3 linked regions of the Homo sapiens genome follow. The protein of the gene in region 2 interacts with the protein of the main gene of each other region in a pairwise test. Each region holds a gene or a part of one and is shown on either strand. Other genes may lie near its edges.

Region 1 (5,361 bases), on a different chromosome or scaffold from region 2:
AGCCTCTCCCAAATAGAGGCCCTACCTGGGCTCAGGCTTAGGGGGAACCCTACAAGTTCCCCAGTCTCAGCCACCTTTACTGGAGGGGCCTCCAGTCCAGATTCACCCAGCCTGTTCTCTAGCTGCTCCCTTGGAAGAGACGGGGTAGACAGAGCTGGGAACAAGTACCCCTGAGCACCAGAGTCTGAGTCTAGGCCCAGAGCTATTTGGATTCCAGGTAGAAAACATAAAAATATTTACTCCTTAACAAGAGCCCTAGACCTGCTAAGGCAACGTGCAGGTCACACATGTAGACAGCAGCTCTTAATATACAGCTGGTCAGGCTGCGGCTGGGGTTGGGAGAAGGAGGGGCAGTCCCCCAGCCATAGCCCAGGCTTCAAACCCCGCCCCCGCAAATGCTCCCTTCCACAGTACAAGCCAGACTCCAACTGGGGGAGGCAGCTGCAACCCCCACTGCTACGGAAGGTCCTTCTTTCCCCAGAGGAAGCATGGCACTAAGGTTCAGTGTAGACCGTCTTTATTGGCAGGTGTTAAGAGTGCAAAATATCAACAAACCCAGGGGAATACGCAAGGGGGTGGGAGTATGGCTCCCCTACCCCATGTGAGAGCCCTGTAACCAAGCCAGTGGGGTGGGAACGTTGACTTGACTGTGGCAAATTCAGGCTCAGCACCTTCCAAAGAACAAGCTCCCAGGCAGGAGGGCTCCTTGCAACACAAGGGGGAAAGGAGTGGCACCCTGGAAGGGGCCTGGGCTGCGACCCACCCTGGGCTGCTTGGCTCCTGTATACTGCCCACCTCAACCCCTCAAGAGGAAGGCTTCACAGCTGGGGGTATGTAGTTCAGAGAACCGGGCTAAACCCAGCCCTCCCCAAACCCAGGTATCTGCCTCGGGCCTCAGTTTCCCTCCTCCCAGTGATTACCCAAGTTGGCCCATCAGGCCCTGTAGTGGCCCAGCCTGATCCAAAGTGACAAGTCCCTGTAACATACCATGTATCAGTCAGTGTGTGGGCTGCAGGCCCTCCAAAGCTGCTGGGATCACCACAGGCTGGCCTTAGTCAAAAAGACCCTCTTAGACCATGGGAATCAATCCAAGGTGCTGGGCATTAAGGCTACCACCCCAAACTTGCTTTGTCTCCTGAAGGAAATTGACTTCCAAGACAAATGGCGCCTGCACCCCACCGGCATGCTGGTCCAAAAGTGTGATGCAATAACCAAAGGGTCCTCCTGCTGAGAGCCCCAGGCTGGCATTAAGCCCACAGGGGCCTCGTGCTCGGGAAAGTCTGGTCTGTTCAATCAAAGGCCCAACCCTGCAGTGCTGGGCCTCCTGGCACATTCTGCGCCTCTGGTCATGTCCTCCACACACTCTTGGAGGCCCCACCCCACCCCGTGAGGCCCAGTCCCTTCCCTTCTGGCCAGGGTCTGAGTCAGTTACAAGGCAGCCAGGTGGGATAGGCGTGAGCCAGGAGAGGTTGCACGGGGGTCACGTAGTAATTGACAGTGGCTGGCACAACCCCGTCAGTGCCTGGAGGGCGCCAGGCCAGGGCGGCAGTGGCAGCTGGGCCCTGCTCAGCCAGTGCCTGCAGCGCCAGTGCGGCAATGAGGTCCAGCGTCTGGCGGCGCTCGTGGTTCATGAGGCACACGGTGCTCTCGTTGACCACCCGGTGCAGTGTCACCAGGCAGGCGTAACGGCGGGCTGCATCTGCCCCACCGAAGTGGGCCTCCAGGTAGCGCTCTAGGGTGCGCCGCTGCTCCACCAGGTCTGGAAAGTCGATGAAGAAGCGGGAGCACATGTAGCGCTGCAGGGCGCGCACATCGGTGCTGGGCCGGGGCCGGAAGCCCCGCACCAGGAGGTGGCAGTACTTGAGGAGGCCACCACCTCGGATCTCCTCGGGACTGCGCGTGGCGATGACACGGTGCCGCAGGTGCTCCAGGGCCTCGGTGAAGTCCCCGTACAGGCTTTCGCCTGTGACCGTTGGGTGGAAGGCCTCAGACATGGGAGTGGACGAGCACTGGCCAAAGAGCAACAGGGAGTCCAGGATGATCTGGAAGGAGTCTATGCTGAATTCAAACTGGCGTCTCACCGAGTCCACAAACTTGAGCTCCACGTTCTTGCCGCTCTTGTTGGACAGTGAGATGAGGCTCCAGCGGTCCGAGTCTGTGCACACTTTCACCAGCTTCTGCACGTATGCCTCCTTGAGTGTCAGTGGCGTGATCTTGGCCCGGCTCACACCGGCCGGCAGGAAGTCTAGTAGGCAGGCCAGCACCACTGCCTTGGTCAGCTGGAAGGATGCCTCACTGCGCAGGTCCACCCGGAACACCAGGTCCAGATCCTTGTAGCCCAGGCCACTCTCAGGGTGCAGCACGTGGCTGGCAGCTGAACCATGCAGCCGCACACTGTGCACATGTAGTCCCTGCTCCTCCAGGGTGCTGCGGACCACCTGCAGGGGAGAGCAGGAAGGAGAGGTGTCAGGAGCGGGCCTCAGGGGTCCACCAAGGACTTCCGTTTACTTATCACGGTAACTTCAACCACTATTGGCCCCTAACCAGCTGTTATGCCTTTGGAAAATCATTTAACTTTTTTTTTTATTGGGTGGGGGTGGGGGGGTTGGGGGGGAGTCATTTAACTCTTTAAACCTAATCTGAGAATGGCCCATCTGGAGGAATGACTCAGGAAGAATAGCAATGATAATAGCACACATCTGCATAGAATTTACTAAACAGCAGGTCACTTAATCCTCACAATAACCCTGTGAGGTGGATACTATTATTCACACTTTACAGATGCAAAAATGGAAGTACAGAGGGGCCAAGTAACTAGCTCAAAGGCAAACAGCTGGTGAATGCAGAGCTGGGAATAAAACTCCGAGTCCAAGTCTTTTTTTTTTTTTTTGAGATGGAGTCTCACTTTGCCACTCAGGTTGGAGTGCAGTGGCGTGATCTCGACTCACTGCAACCTCCGTCCCCCGAGTTCAAGTGATTCTCCTGCCTCAGCCTCCCGAGTAGTTGGGATTACAGGGGCCTGCCACTGTGCCCGGCTAATTTTTGTATTTTTAGTAGAGACAGGGTTTCACCATCTTGGCCAGGCTGGTCTTTAACTCCTGACCTCGTGATCCACACACCTCCCAAAGTGCTGGGATTATAGGCGTGAGCCACCGCGCTCGGTGGTTTAAGTCTTAACCGTGCTATTCTACCTCTCAAACTGCTAGTAAAACAGTTCTGTATCAGGCACTGTGCTAACTGCTCAAACGTGTTGGGAATATGGTTAGCAGTTCACATTCATGACCACATTAACCCTCCCCATAATCCTACATTTGAGTATTATTTTGACTGATAGATGGAGGACCTCAGGTGCAGAGAGGTAAAGTCAAGGTCACAGAGCGGTCAGGCTGAGACCAGAACCCAGGTTAGTTGGGATTCTCAAGTTCACCTATGTCCTTTTGACTACAATGCACTCATCCTAACTCATCCTTACAAGGACCCAGTGAGGCAAAAATTATATACTTTTTTTGCTCTCGGATGAGGAAACTGAGGCTTACAGTGGTGAAACAGCTAAGGCTCAGTGAAAACTCTCAGCCTTCAGACAGTCCCCAGGCCTGATGGCACAGGACAGATAAACCTATAAGTGGTCCCTCCGCTGAGGTACCAGGTAGGGAGAAGAGTGAAGCTGGGGGTTGGGGACATTCAGTTTTCTCAGTAACCCAAAGTTGTCCTGAAAGTGACCAGGCAGCATTCCTGTCCTGAGTGATTCTGCAACCCTGCCTTGCTGCCAAGTCAGCACCCAGCTCCAGACCAGGCTGTTCTCCTTGCCTCCCAGGGAATTACTACAAAGAATGCACCTAAGTGCTGAGAAGGCAAGCTGTGGTGGGGCAATCAGAGGCGGGCGGCGCCCTCCAGGAAGACTTCCGGGAGGAGCAACTTTACCAGGGGAAGATATTGTCATGGCAATGGGAGGGTAAGCAACTGGCCACAAGGAACACGGAGAATGGGGCGTAAGCAGCTGGCCATCAGGAACACAGAGGGTGGCAGAAGGAGGCTAGGCATCTAATGAGTGCCGAGCACTGGACCTTGTTGCCAGAATCTATGGGGACAGGTGTCTTTTTTTTTTTGAGTCTGAGTCTGTCATCCAGGCTGGAGTGCAGTGGTGCAGTCTCAGCTCACTGCAACCTCCGCCTCCCAGGTTCAAGTGATTCTTCTGCCTCAGCCTCCCGAATAGTTGGGATTACAGGCGCCCATCACCACACTCAGCTAATTTTTGTATTTTTAGTAGAGAGAGGGTTTCACCATGTTGGCCAAGCTGGTCTTGAACTCCTGACCTCAGGTGATCCACCTGCCGCAGCTTCCCGAAGTACTGGGATTACAGGCATGAGGTACTATGCCAGGCCAAGTCTTTTTTTTTTTAATATGGAATTTTTTTCTGCCTTTCCAAACCCTTCTCTACCTTCCTTTCCTCCATCCTTCTTTTTTTTTTTTTTTTTTTTTTTTTTTTTTTGAGAGAGTCCTGATTTTGTAGCTGAGGGTGGAATGCAGTGAATGCAGTGGCACGATCTCAGCTCACTGCAACCTCAGCCTCCCAAGTAGGTGGGACTACAGGTGCGTGCGTGCCACCACACCCAGCAATTTTTTATTGTTTACAGTGATGGAATCCTGCCAGATTGCCCAGGCTGGTCTCGAACTCCCGGACTCAAGCTATTCCCCTGCCTCAGCCTCCCAAAGTGCTGGGATTACAGGCGTGAGACACTGTGCCTGGCCCAGGACAGGTCTCCTGGGAAACTGAAGCTCACAGGAGTGATGTCACTTGCACAAGATCACGTGGAGATGCCTTCAAACCCAGGGATGGCCAACAGCAAAGCCTATCCTGTTTCTACCACATTACAGTCCCAGGGTTCAGAAGGAGCAGACTAGTGTTCTAATCCACCTTCCCTTTCTAAATTTCAAAGCAAAGGCAACCCTCAAGCTACTGAAGCCCAGAGCCAGAATAGTTGGGGAACAGGAAGGTGAGGGTTGGGAGATGCCTTGGCCAGACAAGGCCAGTTGCTGCAGTCCAGCCTGTGGGACTTCTAACCCACACCCTGTCAGCTGGCAGCTGTGCCTGCATGGGCCAAAGACCTTGGTCCAAGGACCCTACCAAACCTGCAGAGAAGACCAGCCCCTTCCTCAGATCCCATTAGGGCTGACTGAGCCTTACTCAGTGCCAGCTCCTGCTCCCAGGCTGGTGCCCACCCCAGGGCTTGGCATCTGGCCTAGTGAGTAGGTAGCAGTACTCTTGTTAAATCCCCTGCGTCAGGGCCATGGGGCCAGCTGTGTCAGCCAGCCAGTCGCTGTTGTCTCCTTCCCAGGTGTGACTACAGCCAGTTTGGCAGA
Region 2 (7,030 bases):
TGTTGTTAGGCTCTCCAAACTCAATTTCAGAGCAATCCTGATGAAAGTCACAAAAAGTCTACCTACCACTGTCATTCATATCTATTTTATGCATAGATTAGCAAAAAAAAAAAGTAAAAATAAGTTTGCTAATTTACTCTCTGTCCTAAGAAAAACGTGTTTTGGGGAGGAAAGGCTGAATGTAGGCTTCTTATTCATAAATAGCGGTGTAAAATTAAACTGGACCCAATGTTGTGCTAGAACCATTTTAATATAATTATACATATCTGCCAAATCCAGGAAGAAAAGGTTTATGCATATATAACTTTTCCATTTAACATCTGCAAGCATAAACGACAATGATCTCAGTTTAATAATTCATCAGGGTCAGAGCAATTGACCAATGTCTCTTTACTGCTAGGCTTACCAACAGTAAATTACAGATGAATTAGTGTCCTTTTGCTTCTCTTCTCTGACTCTCTTTGTCCAGAGACATTTTGTCGTAAAGTTTCAGTGCAGCTCACCTCCAGCCAAAGGTAATCTTTTTAGATCAGTACTCAGTTGCTCTGAATTTTGCTTATAATTATAACCTATTTAATCACAGAAGAACCCCTGCAGAGGTGGAGTTCAAGGTTGCATACAATAACAGGAGATCACAGTTTTGAAGTCTAGCACAGATTAAAAACCACAGATGTACCATTTATAAGACACACACTGATTGTCTCTTAAACTACATATTGACTCCTTATGAACATTATTTTTTAAATAAAGTAGTGCATCTAGGACAATCAGTCACACAATTCACACAGCCCTGAAAAGTTTTTTCAGTGCCAACTACCAGTTGGTCATGAAACGTGAATGAGCTTGAGACACTGTTCATTCCTAAGATTCAACCAAGGATTGGCTAAAACAATGGAACACCTCTGCTTAAGAAGGCTATGACCTTCCCTCCCTTCCTTCACAACTTAGTTTTGTTTGATTTTATTTTTGGTGGTGTTTGGTTGCACATGGCTAGAATGCTTTTGATCACTTTGCAAATCAGGATAACCAATGATCTAAAACTATGACAGGATCTTAAGCAGATTGGTTTGTCCATTTCATGTTGCTGGTTTGTAGGCCCCTCTAAGGCCCTTCGTTTTTCCTTCTATGCCTCTCGGAACTTTGATCAGATGAGTCTGAGCATCATCCCATCTAACTCTTTTAACCAATGCCTGGCTAAAACTGGAATGTCCAGCCCAGTATATTTAAAAATCACCCACAAAAAGAGGTTCTACAGGTCTTCACAAAACCTGGAATTTCCACGAGGATGTCTGATCTTTATAATCCAAGCAGTCAGCATTGAAGTTAAGCTTCCAGGAGGCAGTTTGGTCCTTATAATCCAAGCAATCAGTGGTTGAGTTAAAACCCAAGCTTGAAGCTCCATATCCCTGGGTGGAAAGAGAAGCTGGGGACTGATTGAGATGGCTGGTGACTGCATTGGTACCCATGGGACTGAGTGTGGCCCCTGGTCCGGGAAGCTGGTGATGCATAGGGGTCAAATATGATCCACAGTCCATGCCCCCAAAGTAGGAAGTTGAGCCAGCATATCCTTGACTATAACCTGAAGCCTGAGTATAGGTCATGGGATAGGACCTCTGCATGCAGGAAGAGGAGGTGGACAAGGGATCTGACAGTGGGGAGATGGAAGCTGGGCTCCAGATAGACACAGGAGCACTGCTGCTGGCAATGGTCGGGACTGAGGTGCTAGAGGGGGGAGTGAATTGGCCACTTGTTCCACTCTCTGAACTCACTTCCCGAGCTGGAGATGTCTTCTTTTTGGCAGGTCTCACTTTGTTTTGACCTCCATTCTGCTGTTGTTGCTGTTGTTGGCGGCACTTAGCTCTTCGATTCTTAAACCATACCTTGGAAGGGAAAGAAAATTCTTTAACTCGGTTTTGATAGTTCCTTAAGGACAAGAATGGCTCCCGTATTATAAATCTATCCTACATGGGCAGATCAGCTAAACACACAATTTCCCCTGCCACTGAAGACCTATTATGTGGTACTCTCATATAAACTCCTGGACTTGTAAGAAAGTTGGGGAGGCTCTGTCTAAAAACACTTGACACTGTCTTATTTCTTGCCCAGAATAACATTTAAGATAATCCCCCAAATCATATAGCTAAAAACTCTCCACATCACTTTCCTATCTTATTTCGCCTCTAACACACACATACACATAGACCCAGCTATATTTTGGAACACTCTCACAGAGGAATAGAATGTATCTCTGTCTTTTGGAGGGAAATACATGAGAAGTGAGAGAAAGCAATTCTGTTGTTACAGGCTAACAGGAACAGCCTAAATTCATTTACAGTTCATCTTCCAGGAAGCAACTGCTAATATAGAGGTTGGTTGGTTCCATCACCCTTCTGTCTCTCTTAGAAAGACTCACAGAACAAAGCTCCAAGGGGAAGACATGATCTTGTTGAAGAAAGAGGTCTGAAAGCCACTATTTGCTAAAAGCTTCTTTGTGGTAAAAGGAGTGACTTACATGCACTCTGCTTTGAGCTGGAGCACAGACCTGCTAGTCTCTGGGACTCGAGTCTGTGTTGTTAGAGTAGTGCCACTCAGCACATAGACTCAGTCTCCTGTGCTGTGTTTACTGACTTACCACTTCAACCCCCTGCTGCAATCTTGACAATTCTCTTTACCAGCCCTGTTCATGTTCTGCAATGAAGGAGCTATGATTGGTGTACGAGGGGGCTTAGAAGAGGAACTACTGGCATTTTCTGGAGGACAAATCCTTAGCTGAACTTTTGAATGAGCTCTCTGTATGGGTGCCGTAACTGTGGTAAAAGTGAGGCCACCAAGGCCAAGCTCAAGACCACCAACCATTTGGAGCCATTTGTTTTCTCCTAGTGAGGACTTTGGTTCAAGCCTTGCAAGTGCTAAAACTTCCTCTAACCTACTTTGAAAAAGCCCCTTTCCCAATTTGCAGCTGACACTGATGTCTGTCGCTTTCATAAACATATTCTAGCCGAAGGAGAGGCCCAGGTGTGTATGTGGTTTATGTGCTAAACACTTTGCAGAGAATTCTGTACAGGGCTCACTCACAAGGCAAGCTGGAGTTGACCTTCCCTCTCCAGTTTAAGGTCAAGTTTAGGGGAACTAAAACAAGAGGGGTGTCACTAGAGACATTATGTAGATATTTTATCTGTTAAATGGCTCAGAACTAGAAAATTCTCTTCAATCCCTAAGAAGTCAAGGAAAATACATTCTTTTTGTGTTGATTTATTTGGTAAAAGCACCAGCTGCGTCTATACCCTGACTCTGCCACCAAACTTAGTTATGACCTTGAGCAAGTCATTTACTCTATTTTTTCATCTGTAAAAATACTTGGACTGTCCAAGAGCTAAGCTGCTTTCACACGTACAAGTCCATGAGAATAGGAGAGGATTTCTATACAGAGGAAGGGAAGGGTTACAACACCACGTGACTACTCTTGAAACCTGCTCAAGGATGGGTCTCTCTCCACCAGCAACCCGGGCCTTGAAGACCCTTGCTTACGGGATTAAGTGGTGACGGGCAGGCAAAAAAGGGCAGAAGGAGAATAGTTTCCTGGCCCCTTAGTGAGTGAAGGAGAATTTCAAGCCTTCCTTCAGTCCTCTGAAAGACCTGGGGCTCTCCACAGTCCCATACTCGGGAAGGGTGGCATGATCAGGAAGGATGGTTCTGCCTGCATCTGCCCTACCTGCACCCTCGACTCGGGCAAGTTGATTTTCAGTGCCACCTCCTCTCGCATGAAGATGTCTGGGTACCGGGTCTTGGCAAACAGTGCTTCCAGCACATCTAGCTGCGCCCGAGTGAACGTCGTCCTCTCCCGGCGCTGTTTCCGGGGGGTGGCTGCGGGACAAGAAGCCCAGGGCCCTTTAGGGTGGGGGAGCAGTTTCTCAGTCATAGGCGTTTCCGCGGGTTCTCCGACGCCCCTGCCCTCCACCCCGCAGCAGTCCCCCGTTCCTCACAGCCCTTCAGCCGGGAGCCTACCAATGCTCTCCCCACCGTCTCCCCAGCCTTGCTCCCCGGGGACCCAGGACACACGCTGCTTCTTTCCCTACTCTTCTTGGTGTTGAGATTGCTCCAATCAGAGCATCACTTGGAAAGTTAACAAATGAAACATTTTTTAAAAGACACACAAAAAAGTTCTCCAAGATCAACCCCCAAACCACAACACAAAAAGGCTATTCCAAGAAGTCAAAGGATCTCCGAGGACAGACTGGCAGCTCGAATTGATGGGGGAAATCTGGATCCTGTTCCCATGGTTTTTAGCACACCATGGGCCTTTGTTCCTCCATCTTTAAAATGGGGACATAGTTCATACTCCTGGGAGGATTTTTAAACATATCTGATTGGAAAGGAAAGCACCCGCATTTGGAGGAAGTCACGCCTCTTGGGATTAAAGCAGGCTCTGGAGGTCATAGGGGAAGGCCTGGGCATGGAGGGAACAACTGCGAAGCCCGAGAGTGCTAAGGACTTACGGAGGGAAAACTCAGCTTCTCCAAGAGGACACTTCTGAGGAATTGGTCATTGAGATATGGGTAGGGGTCTTTTGCCCAAATGACAAGGACAGTAACCTTCCTCATCCCACTCTGATGCCAATCCTTATTTACTCGAATTAAGAATAAAGTGATGTGATTGTAACGGTTGCAGACCCACCTACTCACTTTTCCCAACCCCTGTTCTCTGCTTGGTCAGTAAATGCCCTGGGACTGCTTCCTCAGAAGGCAAACCTAGAGGAGACCAAGCCTGAAGCTGGGTGGGGACAGTGTGACTGCCAACCCCCGTGTTCCATGGGAACAGGGTGTTGCATCCCCGGAGGGTGGGCATGGGGAAGAGGGGTGCGGGAGTGCAGCAGGGCTCACTTACCCGGGTAGCCCACGGAGGGGTGCAGCAAGTCCATACCCGAAGTGGTCAGACTCAGCCCATTGACTGCGTAAGGCGGTTGCTTAAGATAAGACATCATGCTAAGGTTGTTTGGAGGTGCAAAGTCGGCCCAAATCGGGGGTACCCAGCTGGAAGATCTTGATGCGCCCGGGGTGGACAGGTTCAGAGTCCTTGGTGGGTGGGTTTGGAGCAGTGGAACTAAGGGCAAAGCAAACAAACAAACAGAGGGGCTGGTTTACTGCTTCGGAGGCAGCAGCTCTTCCACGTTCCAGCACTAACTTAAAAAGAGCACGGACTAGGCGAGGCAGAGGCTTTTAAAGGACTTGCAGACACTCCCCCCACCCCCATCCCCACCCCCACCCCCAGCTGCTCTGGAACTAGAGGGGATGGAAGGAGACCAGATAAACCTGTCTTCCCCACCCCCACCCTAAACTTAAAAAAAAAAAAAAAGTACCCGAAGAAAGCAATTACAATCTGCCTTCCCCAAGAACAAAAACCCGTGCCTTCAAATGCACACATTGCATTCCTATCCCTACATTTGCATAGGACTCATTGGCTGGCACTAGCTAATTGTCTCAAACAAAACTTGATTGGGGCCATTTGCAGAGACAAAGAACTCTTTGGCTAAATAAATAATGCTGATAACAAAGCCCATTGGTGAGAAACAAAGAAACAATTCAAGAAATCTACCTCTCCCCAGACTGTTGCCTTTCCATGGCAGAGATTTTAATTATCTTAGCTTTTTACCACTTTCAACTGCTGCGAACCTAAAATGTCAGTGCGTTTAACATCTAAAATACCAACTCACTAAACCACAAACTTGGAAAAACCGCTCAACCACTATTATTCCACATTTGAAGTCATTTCCGGTAATCATTTTCACCTAATTAGTAGTCTGGGTAATTAGATTTCGAGGTAAGTAACAGATTTATTAGGGTTTTGGAGAATCTTGATTATATGTGTCTAAGGAACGAAAGCTAAACAAACAAGTATTTAACTTTTAATAGACACCCATCAAATATTTAAGCATATTCCAAAAAAGTCTTCAAGATTGGCACAGGGCTTGCCAGAAATTGTGAAGTAAAGTTAGAATCCCACCAATCAGATAATGACGGGACCCCACATTTGTAGTGCAAGCTGCTTCCATGTTGATTTTGATGTGTGGAGGCTGCAGATCCTGCGGGAGGCAAATTTTCAGACATTTGGGTCCTCGGCAGCTGCAGCAGAGTTTCCTGTTAACTCTAACTGCCTTTTGCACATTTTAGTTTTGAAGAAAGTAGATACACAAACACCCAAAGTTGTGAAACTAGTAGAATTTCTCCCTACCTTTCAAGTTTCCTACAATCCTATAAGAAAAAGAGCTCAAGGGGGAAAAGAAAGGAAGAAAAAGAAAAGTTATTTACTTTCTTCAGCTGAGCTCCCCGCCTCCACCCCAGCAAAGAGATTCAAAGTAGATGTTAATATAGACTGGCAGTTTGCAAGTCTGGCCTTTATTTTCCTAAAATGTGGCACTTATATGCAAGGATCTCTACTTTGAAACTTTGACACCATGAGAGATTGCTTCAAAATGGCGGATACAAGATAAAGGTCTCACTGACTTTAAAGGACTCCGGGTTTTCATATTTACGTTGCTTAAGACAGCAAGGCACAAAAGTCCATAAATGAAACTTAGTAACTGCAACTTCTTTCTGATTTAAATTCAGAGCACAAAAGTCATGCTTTTCTACCCTAAGATCTAACTTAATATAATTTTATAAATGTCTTTCTTGGAGGAGTTTGTATTATCCTCAGTACAACTAATTTAGTTGCCCCTACAATACAGACTTTATGTTTTTGTATTGTCTTTTCTTTTCAAAATGCTGTTCTTTGGAGGCTGCGAAAATAAACAAAAATCTCCAGCTTAGAGGCTGTTTAAACACATATGCGACAGCTTTAAAATACAGTTGTATATGTGTTTAAACAGCCTCTAAACTGGAGATTGGAGATTTTTTGTTTAATCGTACTACCTTGCAAAATTCTGAACTACAGTGCTATAGAGAATCGTAAAATCATATCAGATGTACCCTTGAGAAATATGGAAATGTTCTTACATGTAGAGCTCTCACCCAATTAGAAATGCCTGACACAT
Region 3 (7,030 bases), on a different chromosome or scaffold from region 2:
AAAGCTAAGCACTGGCACCTACCTGGAATTTCCTACCTAGACATTCTTGGAAATTTTCATGCCACTCTGTGATTTTCACCTGTCCTACTCTTCTATGACTGGTTTGAAAAGGAGAAAAATTCCATGGGGTGTTTCTAAATCTTCGCCCCTCATGAATTAGTTATTTTGCATTAATGTGTATTATAAATGGGAAAGAAGTTAATTATTTCATTTCAGATGAAATATAATGATCCAGTGAGCAAACAACCCACCCTCTCTCCTCTCTCTGCTAACAAGCCACCCAATTTTACTTTCCTGCCTCCACCCATCTGCTCCACCCTATGGAGAGTTGCCAAGGCAAGTCCAACTTGTCCAAACAGGACATGGCTTCAGATAAGATTCTGCCCACACCCTGTACTTCGGAAAGACCAAGTGAAGCAATTGATTTTGCATGTCAATAAGGACAGGTGCAAAGGTAACAACCAAGCAGAAGCCTGACAAGTTTCCAAACTGAGGCCTAGCAAAGCAGGGCTGGGGGCGGGGACACCCACACCTATGCTACCCTCTAAGTTCAAGGCCATCTGGCTAGTGGCATTCCACACCCTTCTTAGAGAAACTGCAGCAAACTCGAATCATTTTCCCTACTAGGGTTACACACTTGTTTATGCTCTCTGACAATTTTGTGTTTTAGTTTTAAGGGCAGGCAACCCAAGATAAATTGAAAAATACCCATAATGTCTAATCCTGCTGTGTACATATCTCACAAGGCCTCGCCTAAGCCCTCACAATTCTCCTCTATGAAGTGTTATATAATCAAATCCAGAAGGGCTGCGTGAGGCCACACTGCCTCTCATCTGCCTCTGCTCAGTGCCCTCCCTATCACTGGAGACCCACCCAACTCCACCCTAAGGAGCCTCCACCCATGGGGCCCCACCCTGCAGGGAGTGGGAGGTTGGGAGGGACCAGTTGGCGCTGGGCAGCAGCCAGTTCCTGGAAATTCCGGCCTGAACAGGGATGGTTAGAATCTTAAAAATAACCAGAAGGAACCATGGGGCTGTGATCATTCCTCTGCTCCTGAGGATTCTCCACTGAAGTTCCTCCCAGAGAGCCACTGAAACTTTGGATACAAAACCATGAGCGAAGCCTACCCTCTCCCTTTAAAAATAAGCAGAAAAGAAAGAGAAAAGCATTTTGAACCACTGCTATCAACGTGGCCCAAACCAACCCTACCCCTCCTTGTTCCTGCCTCTAAGGCTGCCCCCTCCCCGCCTCCCATTGGCCTTATTTTCTGGTCCTTCACCATGGAAACCTAGAGGCCATCTCTGAAGCCTTCCTCACCTCCTTTGCTCTCCCCTCCTGCCTTGGGGGCCAGGCCCTCAGCGCCTCCCACCTGCATTGCTGCAGCTTTTCCACCACTGGTCTCCCTCAGCCTCTCCAGTCCAGCCCTCACCCCTTGCCACCCACGTTTTTCACAGATCTCTTCTCATCCCATCCTTCTCCAGCTCACAACCTTCCCTCCCGTGCACTCCCCGGGTCTGACAGTGGGCTCAGGCACCCATGCTTGGCACCCCGTTACCCACGAGCTGCCCCCTGCTCCAACAAGTGCCCTTCATGCCGGCTGCCCTGCCCACCCCCAGGCCTTTGTTCATTTTTGGCCCTGATGCTGGGCAACCGGCAATGGAATGCCCCCTCCCCTTCCGGCTTATCTAAATCCCCCTAATTCTTCAAAGACCAGCTCAAGGCCCTCCCCACTCTGTGCAGCCAGCTGATTGCTCCCTGGGGGATCCAAGGCCGCCTCTTCTTACCTAGATAGTCTAGGCCTCTTAGCTTTCCCAGTGGTGCGTCCCACACCGCCACCAGTACTGGGAAGGACAGACAGGCAGGCCTCAGCCTTCCTGAGAGGGCTCCCTCCCCACTCCCCACAGGAGATCGGGCTTGTTCCCTGAATGAAGTTTTTATGTCAAGCCTAAGGAGCTAACATAAGAGCACTTAGCTTATAGTAGGAGTTCCACAATCATCTCCCTTTCCCTCTGAATGCACTTGAAATCTCCCTTAAACAAGTAATAGGGATGAAGGGCCTAACTCTAAGGGAGACCTAGTAAACCAAACTTCCTAAGGAAAAGTTATTGCCCCTAACCTTAGCCTGGCCCATCATGTGTACTCCAGAGACCTTATTAGTACCATCTTCAAATAATTTATTATTATCCACTCAGTGAGGTCTTCTAAACAAGTCTAGTGTCGAGGTCTCTACTGTACTTTAAAATCTAAAATAGAAAAAAGAAAGCGAGAAAGGGAGGAGAGGAGGCAGGTGGGGGGGAACTGCAAGGGGAAGGGGTGTGTGCACAAACACAGGTTTTTGAAAAGGGATCAAGGAAGGCAAGGGGCTAAGTGATGTCACAGGTTTCCTGCCAATCACCACCACCTTCGTGATTGGCAATCCCCAGGCGCTGTTTAATGTCAATGAGGTGGTTACTACCTTCCCGTTTTACTGAAAAGAACACTGAAACAGAGAGGTCAAGTAACCTGCCTAACATCACACAGCTGCTAACTCGTAGAGCCAGGACTTGAACCCAAGGTAGTCTGACTTAAGACTGGTGGCCTTGGCACACCACTCTTCCACCTCCCCAGGCAGAGGACAACATTACACCACCAACAGTAAGTACATGATAGTGATTTCTGTGAACAGGTTGGTCCCCGGAGAAGACAGAACGTGGGGACAGTCTGTTTACATTAGTGACAGTTTCCACTCCTTCCAACTGGCCCCTGCTGCCCACCCTGTCTCAGTACGCACACTTGGATGCAAGATCAAAAGACACATTCTGAAGGCCCCAAATTAGGCAATTATTCTTCCTAGCCAGTGCACCTGCATTGTCGATATAACTGCTGAGAAAAATTGGCAGCTTGACCCAAGTAAATACGGAAATCCTCATAATAACTGCACAAAGGTGGAAGGGTCAGGTCCTCATCCCCATTTTAGAAATGAGGAAATGGAGGAACAGAGGTGAAATGACTCGCCCAATTTCACAGAGCTGGTTGGAGCTGCAGCCAGGAACAGAAGCGTGTCTGCCTGCAGACCCGGGCACTTTCTGTTCTGCTTCAGAGCCTGTGCTGTGGGACCGACTTTTAGGTAAAATCGCCTAATGCTGGGGTCTTTCCCCAGTAGGGAGGGTGTGGGTGTGCACAGCCACACTGGCCCATGGGAAGCAGTGCCAGGGGGAGGTTCCAGCAGGCAATTAAGATTTCAAAATGCCTTTTCAGGTTAGATCACTGTAGATCTACTCCATCCTATGGCATAACTCAGAGTAATGATTGCACATAATTTGAGATTAGCTCTAATAAGTAGGTACTCAATAAATACTTGTGAGATGAATAAATGAATGGATGTCAAACTACACTTCTCACATGCTAGGATAAATTAAGGGCAAGGGCCCTGGAATGATGGTACACCAGGTGTCCTACATGGAAACTCTGTCCAGCGGCTGGTGAAGCCAGCCTGAAACCTCATCTTCTAAAATGCAAAGTAAATGTGAAAACTTTGGGAGCCTGGGAGAGAAAAACTCCCTGGTTTGGAAACTCAGCGGAACAGGAACTCGATCTTACAAATGAAAGAGGCTTTGGAGTGTGAAGCTTTGGAAGGTACCAGGGATGCAAAGTACAGGAACAGATAAAGGAGTGGATTTCAGTGATTACACTTAAACAACAGTGGTAGTAGAAAGAACAGCATATAGGCCAGAGAAAAAACCCCACACTTGATTTGCAGGTCGCTCTCCAGGGCAGAATCCGCTGACCTCAATACTCATTTGATCTCTTATGTCCAGATTTGGCCAAACTCCACTGATTTGGGTTGAGACTAGCTCTGGGCCATCCCTGGCAGGATCCACAAGCCTTCCAGAGACTGGCAACCATCCTGAGGATGTCCCAGACTAAGCAGGGCAATTCTGGGTCCTCCTGCAAAGGGTCTGCCTCAGGGAGCGCCCCCTTACAGGAAACAGGGTAAGAGCCAGACCCAGGGGTTACATGAAATGCATGGGCTAGAGGGCCACTTAACTTGCTCTCTTCTGTCTCCAGCCCTTCTAAATAATTAGATGGAGAAATGATAATGAATTCAGCCTGCCGACACAATGGAGTGAGTTTCAAAAACCTCCAGGAGCCTGTTTTGCTAAAGAAACAATTTTACTACAAACTCTCTGGCCAACGGATACAAAATGCACAGATCATTTTTTTATTTTCTTACTGTTCCAGAGAATATGGTCACATTCATTACAGAATAAGGACAAGGCCAGTTAAGAGGACATCTTTTTTTTTTTTTTTTTTTTTTTTTTTTTTGAGACAGAGTCTCACTCTTGTTGCCCAGGCTGCAGTGCAGTGGCACAATCTCGGCTCACTGCAACCTCCACCTCCCAGGTTCAGGCAATTCTCCTGCCTCAGCCTCCTGAGTAGCTGGGATTACAGGCGCCCACCACCACGCCCGGATAATTTTTGTACTTTTAGTAAAGATGGGGTTTTGCCATGTTGGCTAGGCTGGTCTCGAACTCCTGACCTCAGGTGATCCACCCACTTCGGCCTCCCAAAGTGCTGAAATTACAGGTGTGAGCCACCGCGCCCGGCCGAGGACACTATTTTTTTGCTTTGGAAGAAATGAATCCTAGTTTTGGTTCAGAAACTGTCAACAGCATTGTGCCTCTTCTATGACTACTAAATTTCAAGCAAAGAGAGCTGAGTTGGGGGTAAAAGCAGGGCTATTCCCCGCCTTCAGACAATGCTGTCCCTTATCAGGGCAGACTGCTGTCTGGTTTCCTGTCTCCAGCTCGGGCATGACTGCTTAAGATGAGAAACATGGTCTAAGAAAGGAACAGAGTGGTCTTGAAAATGAGAATGCTAGCGACCACCATAACCCTCTTCCAACTCACTCCCAAGAGGAATTCTGACTAGAATATCACATACTAGCAAACTAGATATCAATTGTTTTAAGATTCTAGGGATTTGCTTTTTTAAAAAGCTAGAACCAATGATAAATGATGCACTTCAGAAAGAATCCAAGTTCCAGAATAATGTAATTGTAATTCCTAGTACCTTAAAGAATGAGGTTGTGTGTATTTTATTTTTCTTAAACTCAACTGGGTGTGAAAACAGAGAACAAGAAATGCTGCCTAAGAAATCTGTCGTTTTATAGCAAAAATGTTGATTTGAAAATATTAAGAAGGCAAGTATCTCAAGGGGCGATGGAGACACAATGAAATTAAATTAGGAATCATGATTTATATGGTTAAGAAATTAAAACTCTTGTTCCCATCTTTCTGGTAATCATAGCAACTATAAGATAGGATAATTTTCCCCAACTATTCAGCTTAGCATTTAGAAGCTTGCAGAATTTTTTTCTGATAGAATATATTAGACCCTAATTATCTCTATTAACCACTTCATCTCCCTGCAAAAGAGAGAAGAAAGAATTTGGGGAAAGCCAAATAAAGACTCTGTTTACCAAACCTAGTTAGATTGTTAACAACTTTGGAACCAAAACAAACAAAAAAACCTGCTTCGATTGGAGTTACTTATGAATTTTAAGCTTAAAAGTCTCTTGTCCTACAGGTCAGCTAAGTATTTCCAGCTGCTTTTCCCAAAGGAGAAAGAAGTTATTGGGACTTCTAAAACTCCCAGCTTTTTTCATAGAAGGTTATCAGTAGCCAACTATTTGATACTAATAACTCTCTTAATATCATATTTTATATTTTCCATTTATACATAAAGAATGTGGTGGAATGTGACATTTAAAACGCACCATTATCATCAATTTTGGGGAGAAGAGAGCCTGATTTGCTGCTTCAGCAACTCTTTAAATTAATTCCACAGAGATGCTGTAGATGATTCCTTTTGATTAAAAAAAAAAAATCCCCAAGTAAGTTTACAAAAGCACTTTCCAAAACTTTTCTTTTTCAAGCAAATATTTCCTTAAATCTTAGTTTCTCAAGAACCAACAGAAAACTAATATTAAGGCAGGTCTTAAATAGTTATCCTAGAAATTCATTAACCCACAACTGATAGAATATTTTTAAAAAATGAAAAATATTATTGTAAAACAAAAATGAGAAGAGCATTCTTCTTGTTTTCAAAATAGAAGATTAAAATTTTCCAAACAATCTAGCATTAAATGAATTTGTTAATGCCAGTTCTCCTTTGAGCTTTTTAATTCTTAAAAACGGGTTGGAAATGAGGTGTAGAATATTGCACAGTGAAATCTTTGTCCTTAAAACATTATCCTGATATTTAAATCTTTGTCCTTAAAAAGAAATAATCCCGGGATTTTCTCAATGTCTTAGGCTTTGCTTCAATGATTTTTCTAAAGATTTCTCCTTCCAAACATAAGCAAGACTTAAACTAAAGCCAGGCTGCCAACATTGCTTAAATTCTCCATCCACGGAAGCCACCTGGAGCAGCCTGGGTTAAACGTGAACGAGGGTGGGCCACATCTTTCAGATAATGCTAGGTCTTCTAAACTGTAAGGTGTTAATCCTGATCCAAAATTGACAGCTTCAGGGCAAAATGCCTATCTTAAAACAAACGCCCTAACCACTTCAACACAAGAATTACAAACAAATACAAACAAAACTCCTTTAGGTTTCTTTGCCAGGATGGACCCACGTTTCCCCAAATCACAATCTAGCAATAAAAAATTTAAAAAGGTAAAAGCATTTATTCACCCAGACAAATGCAGTGGAGCAAAGGGTGTACGTAAAAAGGTTAACTGACTTCTCATTATGACATAACACAGGCGTCTTAAGCAATATCAAGTGTGTAGAGACATGATAACTCCATGGGTGGGGATACGGAGTTTAGGGGCAGGGACCTCAGCCTGGTCTGGGCTACTGATCTACCAGAAAACAGCCTGAAACAGGAAAGAGCACACATATGCCACTTGGAATGTATGACGCAAACCCCAGCCTTGAAACAAAGAACAGGAAACAGCTCTGCTGGCTGTGCTGGAGAGAAAGCACAGAGAAACATTTAGCCGGCCCTCCCTGACCCTATATTCATGAGCAGCTGGAGTTTTTTA

The links. Proteins that work in one complex are often made in the same cells at the same time.
Region 1: the proteins of OTX2 (region 2) and TENT5B interact in binary tests that used the Homo sapiens proteins (3 or more experiments, as listed by UniProt).
Region 3: the proteins of OTX2 (region 2) and KLF3 interact in binary tests that used the Homo sapiens proteins (3 or more experiments, as listed by UniProt).

What each region holds. Positions count from the first base shown.
Region 1 is NC_000001.11:27,004,520-27,009,880, forward strand, and holds the end of TENT5B (terminal nucleotidyltransferase 5B), read right to left. Parts: intron 2,439-5,361; coding exon 1,425-2,438; 3' UTR 501-1,424; downstream 1-500. UniProt on the Homo sapiens protein: Catalyzes the transfer of one adenosine molecule from an ATP to an mRNA poly(A) tail bearing a 3'-OH terminal group in an ATP hydrolysis-dependent manner.
Region 2 is NC_000014.9:56,800,476-56,807,505, forward strand, and holds part of OTX2 (homeobox protein OTX2), read right to left. Parts: intron 5,193-7,030; exon of another isoform or gene 5,101-5,192; 5' UTR 4,982-5,100; coding exon 4,885-4,981; intron 3,889-4,884; coding exon 3,713-3,888; intron 1,881-3,712; coding exon 1,260-1,880; 3' UTR 1-1,259. UniProt on the Homo sapiens protein: Transcription factor probably involved in the development of the brain and the sense organs. Can bind to the bicoid/BCD target sequence (BTS): 5'-TCTAATCCC-3'.
Region 3 is NC_000004.12:38,667,169-38,674,198, reverse strand, and holds part of KLF3 (Krueppel-like factor 3), read right to left. Parts: intron 1-7,030. UniProt on the Homo sapiens protein: Binds to the CACCC box of erythroid cell-expressed genes. May play a role in hematopoiesis.